Homo sapiens: one gene and its partner. The protein of the gene in region 1 purifies or fractionates together with the protein of each later gene. This does not show direct contact. Each region holds a gene or a part of one and is shown in the gene's direction. Other genes may lie near its edges.

Region 1 (4,973 bases):
TGAGCCGTGATTGAGCCACTGAATTGAGCTACAGCCTAGGCAGCAGTGAGGCCCTGTCTCAAAAAAAAAAAAAAAAAGAAAAGAAAAGAAAAAAATTAACTCATGGTCATAGAGCTTTTTATTGACAATTATTTTATAAAGGTACGATTTAGAAAATATTTAAATCACAAAACAATATCATGAAACATGTAAGCAATTGTTATTTGGAGATTTACTAGTAGTTTTAGTGATACCAGTTAATATTTTAGAGATCCAGAATTTGATTACAAAAATCATTTGATTTCTAAAACCATAATGAGCTTACCAAGAAAATGTTTTATAGAGATGGCCAGGCGTGGTGGCTCATACCTGTAATCCTTGCACTTTGGGAGGCCGAGGCAGGTGGATCACAAGGTCAGGAGTTCAAGACCAGCCTGGCACACGTGGTGAAACCCCGTCTCTACTAAAAATACAAAAATTAGCCAGGCGTGTTGGCGCCCATCTGTAATCCCAGCTACTCGGGAGGCTAAGGCAGGAGAATGGCCTGAACCCGGGAGGCAGAGGTTGCAGTGAGCCGAGATTGCACCATTGCACTCCAGCCTGGGCAACAGAGCAAGACTCCGTCTCCAAAAAAAAAAAAAAAAATAGGAAAATGTTTTACAGATTACTTGAATTTATTTTTGATTCCTCCCTTAAATCTTTTTGTTCTTTTTTATATTAATATATTATTATATCTATTATAATCTATTCTTTATATATACTAGTCTGCTACCATGGAAACAGCAGTGACATGATAATTTACATGTTTTCTTAGATGCTAGCACTGATTTTATTTTTATTTTTTGTTTTTTTCCATGTGGGTTGCTATGTAAGTTTGATTTCTAGTTTTTTCCATTTTGCTCTATGAATCTTGTTAAAAATAGCAGATAATGGCTTCTATCTATTATAATAAACTTGATGGTGTAGTAATTGTGTTTAATAGACATTTTTATAAGTTAAGTCTTATGTCTTGCTGGGTTTTTTTTTTGTTTGTTTTTGTTTTTCCCTTGAGACAGAGTTTCATTCTTGTTGCCGAGGCTGGAGTGCAATGGCGTGAACTCGGCTCATCACAACTTCGGCCTCCCGGGTTCAAGTGATTCTCCTGCCTCAGCCTCCCGAGTAGCTGGGATTACAGGCATGTGCCACCATGCCCGGCTAATTTTGTATTTTTTTTAGTAGAGACGGGGTTTCTCTATGTTGGTCAGGCTGGTTTCAAACTCCCAACCTCAGGTGATCCACCCGCCTCGGCCTCCCAAAGTGCTGGGATTACAGGCATGAGCCACTGCACCCAGCCATGTCTTGTGTTGTTTTATAAACTAGACTTGAACTAGAAACCTGGTTGCCATATATAAATCCAGTTTATATAGAGGAACAATTGCCAAGTTGTCATATTTAGATAGGTTTAGGAATATAGGGTGATAGCATAATGTAGGAATGTTTTAAATTGTGATTTGTTCCTTCAGCCCCTTAATTTAATTTAGAGACATTACACCATTTTCTCAGAAAATGAGAATGTATACTTGCTCTGGAAAACAAATTCTGACTTTTTTTTTTTTTTTTAGTATTTATTGATCATTCTTGGGTGTGTCTTGGAGAGGGGGATTTGGCAGGGTCATCGACAATAGTGGAGGGAAGGTCAGCAGATAAACATGTGAACAAGGGTCTCTGGTTTTCCTAGGCAGAGGACCCTGCGGCCTTCCGCAGTGTTTGTGTCCCTGGGTACTTGAGATTAGGGAGTGGTGATGACTCTTAAGGAGCATGCTGCCTTCAAGCATCTGTTTAACAAAGCACATCTTGCACCGCCCTTTATCCATTTAACCCTGAGTGGACCCAGCACATGTTTCAGAGAGCACGGGGTTGGGGGTAAGTTTATAGATTAACAGCATCCCAAGGCAGAAGAATTTTTCTTAGTACATAACAAAATGGAGTCTCCTATGTCTACTTCTTTCTACACGGACACAGTAACAATCCGATCCCTCTTTCCTTTCCCCACATTTCCCCCCTTTCTATTCGACAAAACCGCCATCGTCATCATGGCCCGCTCTCAATGAGCTGTTGGGCATGCCTCCCAGACGTGGTGGCGGCCGGGCAGAAGGGCTCCTCACTTCCCAGACGGGGCGGCCAGGCAGAGGCGCCCCCCCCCTCCCGGACAGGGCGGTGGCCGGGCGGAGGCGCCCCCCACCTCCCTCCCCGACGGGGCGGCTGGCCGGGCGGGGGGGCTGCCCCCCACCTCCCTCCCGGACGGGGCGGCTGCCGGGCTGGGGGCTGACCCCCACCTCCCTCCTGGACGGGGCGGCTGCCGGGCGGAGACCCTCCTCACTTCCCAGACGGGGCGGCTGCCGGGCGGAGGGGCTCCTCACTTCCCAGGCGGGGCGGCTGCTGGGCGGAGGGGCTCCTCACTTCTCAGACGGGGCGGCCGGCCAGAAACGCTCCTCACCTCCCAGACGGGGTGGCGGTCGGGCAGAGACACTCCTCAGTTCCCAGACGGGGTCGCGGCCGGACAGAGGCGCTCCTCACATCCCAGACGGGGCGGCGGGGCAGAGGCGCTCCCCACATCTCAGACGATGGGCAGCCGGGCAGAGACGCTCCTCACTTCTTAGATGGGATGGCAGCCGGGAAGAGGCGCTCCTCACTTCCCAGACTGGGCGGCCGGGCAGAGGGGCTCCTCACATCCCAGACGATGGGCGGCCAGGCAGAGACGCTCCTCACTTCCCATACGGGGTGGCGGCCGGGCAGAGGCTGCAATCTCAGCACTTTGAGAGGCCAAGGCAGGCGGCTGGGAGGTGGAGGTTGTAGTGAGTCGAGATCACGCTACTGCACTCTAGCCTGGGCAACATTGAGCACTGAGTGAGCGAGCCTCTGTCTGCAATCCCGGCACCTCGGGAGGCCCAGGCGGGCAGATCACTCGCGGTCAGGAGCTGGAGACCAGCCCGGCCAACACGGCGAAACCCCATCTCCACCAAAAAATACAAAAACCAGTCAGGCGTGGCGGCGAGCGCCTGCAATCCCAGGCACTTGGCAGTCTGAGGCAGGAGAATCAGGCAGGGAGGTTGCAGTGAGCCGAGATGGCGGCAGTACGGTCCAGCCTCCCCTCGGCATCAGAGGGAGACCCTGGAAAGTGGGAGACGAGGGAGAGGGAGAGGCAAATTCTGACTTTCTTAAATGTAGCTTTAGAAGTTTTAATTTATTTAGTATAATAAAAATAGGTCTGGATCTGTTACAATAGGCATATCTTAAGGTTAAGCAATATTAGGTTATTTCTTGTTATGACAGGGTATCATTGGCATTTTCTTAGTAAATAAAAGAATCTGTAGTGTCATCTTAAGGAATTTTTATATAGAGCCTTTCCTTAAACTTTTAATCTCGTATTTATTTGTTTATGTCATTTACAAGTTAAAATATTCTCCTCCAAGGTGGTCAGGATATATTTTGGGAGCTAGTAATATTGATAAACATTTATAAAACATTATTTAAGGTTATTACTATTGGTATTAGGACTAGTAGTTGATTGTAATTATCTATGTTTTTCCATAATCTAGGCTGATTTGCATTTGTAGATTTACAGAGTGTTTTTGGGGTGTTGTTTTTTGAGATAGAGTCTCAGTTGCCCAGGATGGAGTTTAGTGATGTGATCACAGCTCACTGCAGCCTCTACCTCACAGGCTCAAGCAAACCCCCTGCCTCAGCCTGGTGAGTAGCTGAGACTACAGGCACGTGCCACCACGCCTGGCTAATTAAAAAAAAAAAAAAATTTGTAGGCCAGGCATGGTGGCTCATGCCTGTAATCCCAGCACTTTGAGAGGCCAAGGCACACGGATCGCCTGAGGTCAGGAGTTTGAGACCAGTCTGGCCAACATGGTGAAACCCCATCTCTACTGAAATATGAAAATTAGCCAGGTGTGGTGGTTGTAGAGACAGGGTTTCGCCGTGTTTTGTAGAGATGGAGTTTCATCGTTTTCCAGGCTGGTCTTGAACTTCTGGCTTCAAACAATCCTCTGGCTTTGGCCTCCCAAATTGATGGGATTACAAGTGTAAGCCACCACACTTAGCTAGAATTTTTTAGTTAAATTATAACCCACTAATGCTTGGTTAAATTTGTCTTTTCTATGTATAAATATAATTGGCTATTTTATTTTCATATTTGGACTTACATATCAACTTTGAGCATTTCCAAAATTGGTAAATATGATCATTTTCTAGCTGTTGATCAATTAATGTCTTCATAAAATAAGTTAATCATATTATCTGAAAGGAAACAGTTAAAAATGAATGTTGTGGTTCTCTTCAGACCTGAGCTTATGGATGATTATTCTTTGTATGTTGCTGTATTTTTTTTTAATTATTATTATTTTTGACAGAGCCTTGCTCTGTTGCCCAGGCTGGAGTGCAGTGGTGCGATCTCGGCTCACTGCAACCTCTGCCACTCAAGTTCAAGCAATTCTTCTACCTCAGCCTCCTGAGTAGCTGAGACTACAGGCGATCGCCACCACACCCAGCTAATTTTTGTATTTTTAGTACAGACGGGGTATTACCATATGGGCCAGGCTGGTCTCGAACTCCTGACCTCGTGATCCTCCTGTCTCAGTCTCCCAAAGTGCTGGGATTACAGGCGTGAGCCACCATGCCTGGCCTATACTTGGCTGTATATTATACAATTAATGTGAATTATATTGCAATCAGAAAAACAGACGTGTTTTAATTTAAGAAACTTTCAAAAGGAATGCTATCTACACATTTAAAATAATAAGCCCTTGGGCCAGGCACGGTGGCTTACACCTGTAATCTCGGCACTTTGGGAGGCCGAAGCGGGCAGATCACAAGGTCAGGAGATCGAGACCATCCCGGCTAACACAGTGAAACCCCGTCTCTTCTAAAAAAATTCAAAAAATTAGCCGGGCGTGGTGACGGCGCCCGTAGTCCCAGCTACTCGGGAGGCTGAGGCAGGAGAATGGCGT
Region 2 (4,973 bases), on another chromosome or scaffold:
ATTTATGCTGGTATTTCTTTCTTAAAGTTCATCTTATGCCCACCTAAATCCAAAAGATGAAAGTTATTCTGATCACTTTGTGCCTGCTGTAAATAAATACCACCTGGGATCAGGGGCGATAAAAAGATGGGGATGGCTGCCAGCTCTGTGTTCCCTGCGTCCTCTGACGCTCCCTGGGCTGGTGTGTCTCTGCTGGGGGTTGTGCTCCTGTGGGGCTGCCCTCTGAGACCCTTTCTCAAGTTCCGGGGGACCCCTGTTAGAGCTCCTGGGGGAAGACACAGTGTGCCAGATGGCTTGGTGCCACAGGGTGCTCACATGTGCAAGGCGTGGTGACTGCATGGGGATCAGAGGCCGGGCATTAGTGAGGGACTACGCTTGAAGCCCTTAGAAGGTGCCTGGCCATTTTGTGTTCCCCAGATCAGCAGTCACCCTGAAAATGCCAGCCATCTGCATGGCACTCTGTTGGGTGCTTAGTTAATGGAGGGGTCTCTGAGGCTGCGGGGCTTGAAGGCGGCGAGTGATGGAGCCAGCAGTGCAGGATGAGTCATCTGAGGGGCAGGCAGACGCAGGCTGACACTGCACAGACCAGGAAAAGCGGCGTGGAGTCAGCACGGGAGCCCGTCTTTGAGCTTTAAGGTCTTACCCGCTCACCGGGAAGGAGGAGGTGGCCATGTTTAGGAGCAGTAGAACCCTCTGTCATCCCCGGGGAGAGGCTCTCAATGGGGAGTCCCATCTGCAGGCTGCGGGTCTGCGGTGCACGGCTGCTGCTTCCTGTCCAGCTCTGCATCCTGGGGGTGCGGATGAATTAGAGGTGAACGAGCCAGAGTGCTCTGCTTCAGGTTATTTTCTTTGTGAATTTAAGTTCACAATTTAAAAACTGGTATCTTAAAAAACCACTGTACTGCGTGGAAGTGTGAAAGGTGGGAAGTGAGGGTGTGCGTCGCTGCCCCTGCAGCCCAGACTCTGGACCTTGCATTCTGGTTCCTGTACACTGTTGCCGTGGTCTTGAGAGCCCTCAGGTCATCTAGCGTGGGCTGCCGCCTCCTCGTCAGCTTCCAGCTCGTGTCTGGTGCGGAGCAGAGGCTTCCTACTTCGTCGACGTTCCTGAATGAGGTCATCATCTGGTGTAGGCCTGAAAACAACCCGATTAGGTAGATTCCTATTCATAGCCCCATTCTTCTGATGACAGATTGAGTCCTGGCAAGGATTCAAGACGCCCGTGGGATCTGGTAGCAAAGAAACTGCAGAGATGGTTTTTTAAAAACGACTTTATTTAGATGATTTACCTACCATACCCCTCACCCATTTAAAGTGAACTATGCGGTGGCTTCAAGTATATTCATAGTTGTGCAACCATCACCATGATCAACCTTAGAATATGTTTATTGCCTCCAGAAGCAGCCCATCCCCGTTAGCATCTGCTCCCTGTTCCCCAGTCTCCCCAGTTCCTGGCAGCCACTCAGCTAGTATGCTTTCTGTCTCTCTGGATTCGCCTGTTCAGGACATTTCATATGAATGGAATTATGCAACGTGTGCTATTTAGTGATTAGTTATGTCACTCTGCATAATTTTATATTTAGAGTTACCTGTGTTGTAGCATGTATCAGTATTCCATTCCTTTTTATATCTAATATTTCACTGTATGCATACACCACCTTTGGTTTATCTGTTGATTAATTTATGGAAAATTGGTTTCCACTTTTTGTGTGGATGTGTTTTCACTCTCCTGGGTGTTAAGTGTTTCACATTTTGAGGCCCTGCCACTGTTTCCCATAGCGGCTGCACTATTTTCCATTCCCTCTAGCAGTGTGCGAGGGCTCTGATTCTCCACATCGTTCCCAGCACTTGTTACTGTTGTTGTCTACTTAGCAGCCACTCTAGTGGGCGTGGAGCGACCTCACTGTGGTTTGGTTTGCGTTTTCCTGGCAGCTGATGCTGTTGAGCATCTTTGCATGTGCTCATTGGCTGTTTGGGTATCTTTTTTTTTGTTTTTGTTTTGTTTTGTTTTTGAGACATATTCTCACTCTGTCACCCAGGCTGGAGTATAATGGCGTGATCTTGGCTCACTGCAATCTCCACCTCCTGGGTTTAAGTGATTCCTTTGCCTTGGCCTCCAAGTAGCTTGGACTACAGGCGCCCACCATCACACCCAGCTAATTTTTGTATTTTTAGTAGAGATGGGGTTTCACCATGTTGGCCAGGCTGGTCTCGAACTCCTGACCTTAGGTATCCGCCCGCCTCAGCCTCCCAAAGTGCTGGGGTTACAGGCGTGAGCTACCATGCCTGGCCTCTTTGGGTATCTTCTTTGGAGAAGTGTCTATTCATACCCTTTCCCCACTTTGAAAACTGTTTTTTGCCTTTTTTTTATTGACTTTTAGGAGTTCTTCATATACGTTCTAGACACAGGTTCCTTATCAGAGAGACGATTTGCCGATATCCTCTCATTCTGTAGGTTGTCTTTTCACTTCGATGGTTTTGTTTACAGCACAGTTTTTAATTTTGAAGTCCAATTTAGCTGTTTTTTCTTTTGTCCCTTGTGCTGTTGGTGTCTTATCTCAGAAGCTTCTGCCTAACCCAAGGTTTACTCCTACATGTTAAGAGCCTTATTGTTTTGGTTGTTACTTTAGCTCTGCGGTGCATGTCGAGCTGATGCTGGTGTGGTAGGAGGAGGCTCCAGCGTCAGTCTTTTGCTTGTGGGTGTCCAGCTGTTGCAGCACCATGTGCTGGAGAGACTCCTTTTTCCTCCCAACTTGTCATCCTCCCTGACAATCCGTTGACCCTAAATGTGAAGGCTTATTTCTGGACTGTTGTTTCTGTTTTGTTGATCTGTACAGCTGTCCTGCAACTGCCCGGTCTTGACTGCTGTGGCTGTGTAGGAAGCCTTGACGTCGAAAGCCCGAGTCCTCCAAATTCGCTCTTTTTAAGGTTGTTTTGGCTCTCCTGGGTCCCATGCATTCCAGTTTTGGATCAGCTTGCTGATTTGTGGAATAGGCAGCCGCAACTTTGGTAGGGATGATGTTGAAACTGAAGATCAGTTGGGGGAATGTCTAACAACATTAAGTCTTCTGGTTCCTGGGCTGGCTTTGAACCCACGTTGTCTGAATCTGGAGCGCAGGCTCTTGACCAATGCACCTGTCCTCACACTGTGCTCTTTGCACACTCGTTAACAGTGTGTCCTGGAGACTTTTTCATGGAAGGATATGTGGATACTCATTATTTTTAACAGCCACATCAGAATTTATGGATCTACTACAGTGTATTTAGTTCATTTACACTGTTTTCAGCTTTTTCTTCATGTTAACATCAGTGGTGTCCTGAATCTATGTGTTTTGTGCACTCTTTTGGGTGAAGTTCCATTGCTGAATCAGAGTAAGGACGTTTAAATTTTTGAGAGATGCCCCCAGATTTCTCCCTAGTGTACCAAGGTTTGCTTTCCCATGGGTGGGGACACCCTTCTGCGCTGGGTGCTCTGATGCTGCAAACCTTTCTAGGAGACCCATGTAACATTGCATTTTCCAGGGTTTGAATATTCACTTTTGAGTACTATTTGCAAATACATTAAAAGAAAACACAGAAACAGATGAAAATGTCAGATTGTTGCCAAATACTGCAACATGAAATCAGAAACTGATCTAAAATCTGAATTAGCAAAAGCCTGCCAGTTTTAACAGTAAAGCCAAACTCAGGGCAAGCAGACAAAGAATTTTTATTGTTAATAAAGGGAATAATAAACTTCCATGAAGTCTCAGGTACCTGCCTCCCTGGAAGGGGCTTCAGGACACACTGCTAATGCTCGGACCAGTGTCAGAGCCAAATACACACTTTCCTATGGCTGGAATGTGCGTCATAAACAGGCTGAAATGAGCACTTTGTTAGGCGAGCAGCTAATGCTTTGTCAGCTTTCAAATTTCATTTAATATACACGGCTTTAGTTTTCAATACTTTAAATTATTCTTAGCATGTATTTTTATGTCCAGAATTGGTGGGTTCTTGGTCTCACTGACTTCAAGAATGAAGCCGTGGACCCTCGCGGTGAGTGTTACAGCTCTTAAGGTGGCGCGTCTGGAGTCTGTTCCTTCTGATGTTCAGATGTGTTCGGAGTTTCTTCCTTCTGGTGGGTTCGTGGTCTCTGTCTCAGGAGTGAGGCTACAGACCTTCGCGGTGAGTGTTACAGCTCTTAAGGCAGCGCGTCTGGAGTTGTTCGTTCCTCCCGGTGGGCTCGTGGTCTCGCTGGCTTCAGGAGTGAAGCTGCAGATCTTCGCGGTGACTGTTACAGCTCATAAAAGCAGTGTGGACCCAAAGAGTGAGCAGTAGCAAGATTTATTGCAAAGAGCGAAAGAACAAAGTTTCCACAGCGTGGAAGGGGACCCGAGCGGGTTACCAATGCTGGCTCGGGCAGCCTGCTTTTATTCTCTTATCCGGCCCCGCCCACATCCTGCTGATTGGTAGAGCCGAGTGGCCTGTTTTGTCAGGGCACTGATTGGTGTGTTTACAATCCCTGAGCTAGACACAAAGGTTCTCCACGTCCCCATCAGATTAGTTAGATACAGAGTTTCGACACACAGGTTCTCCAAGGCCCCACCAGAGCATCTAGATACAGAGTGTCGATAGGTGCACTCACAAACCCTGAGTTAGACACAGAGTGCTGATTGGTGTATTTACAAACCTTGAGCTAGATACAGAGTGCCGATTGGTGTATTTACAATCCCTGACCTAGACATAAAGGTTCTCCAAGGCCCCACCAGAGCAGCTAGATACAGAGTGTCGATTGGTGCATTCACAAACCCTGAGCTAAACACAGGGTGCTGATTGGTGCACTCACAAACCCTGAGCTAGACACAGGGTGCTGATTGGTGTGTTTACAATCCCTGAGCTAGATATAAAGACTCTCCACATCCCCACCAGACTCAGGAGCCCAGCTGGCTTCACCCAGTGGATCCCGCACCAGGGCTGCAGGTGGAGCTGCCTGCCAG

What was found. Proteins that work in one complex are often made in the same cells at the same time.
Region 2: the proteins of QNG1 (region 1) and NAXD fractionate together in Homo sapiens (co-fractionation; one large-scale study listed by BioGRID). This does not show direct contact.

What each region holds. Positions count from the first base shown.
Region 1 is NC_000009.12:83,945,701-83,950,673, reverse strand, and holds part of QNG1 (queuosine 5'-phosphate N-glycosylase/hydrolase), read left to right. Parts: intron 1-4,973.
Region 2 is NC_000013.11:110,628,039-110,633,011, forward strand, and holds part of NAXD (ATP-dependent (S)-NAD(P)H-hydrate dehydratase), read left to right. Parts: intron 1-4,973. UniProt on the Homo sapiens protein: Catalyzes the dehydration of the S-form of NAD(P)HX at the expense of ATP, which is converted to ADP.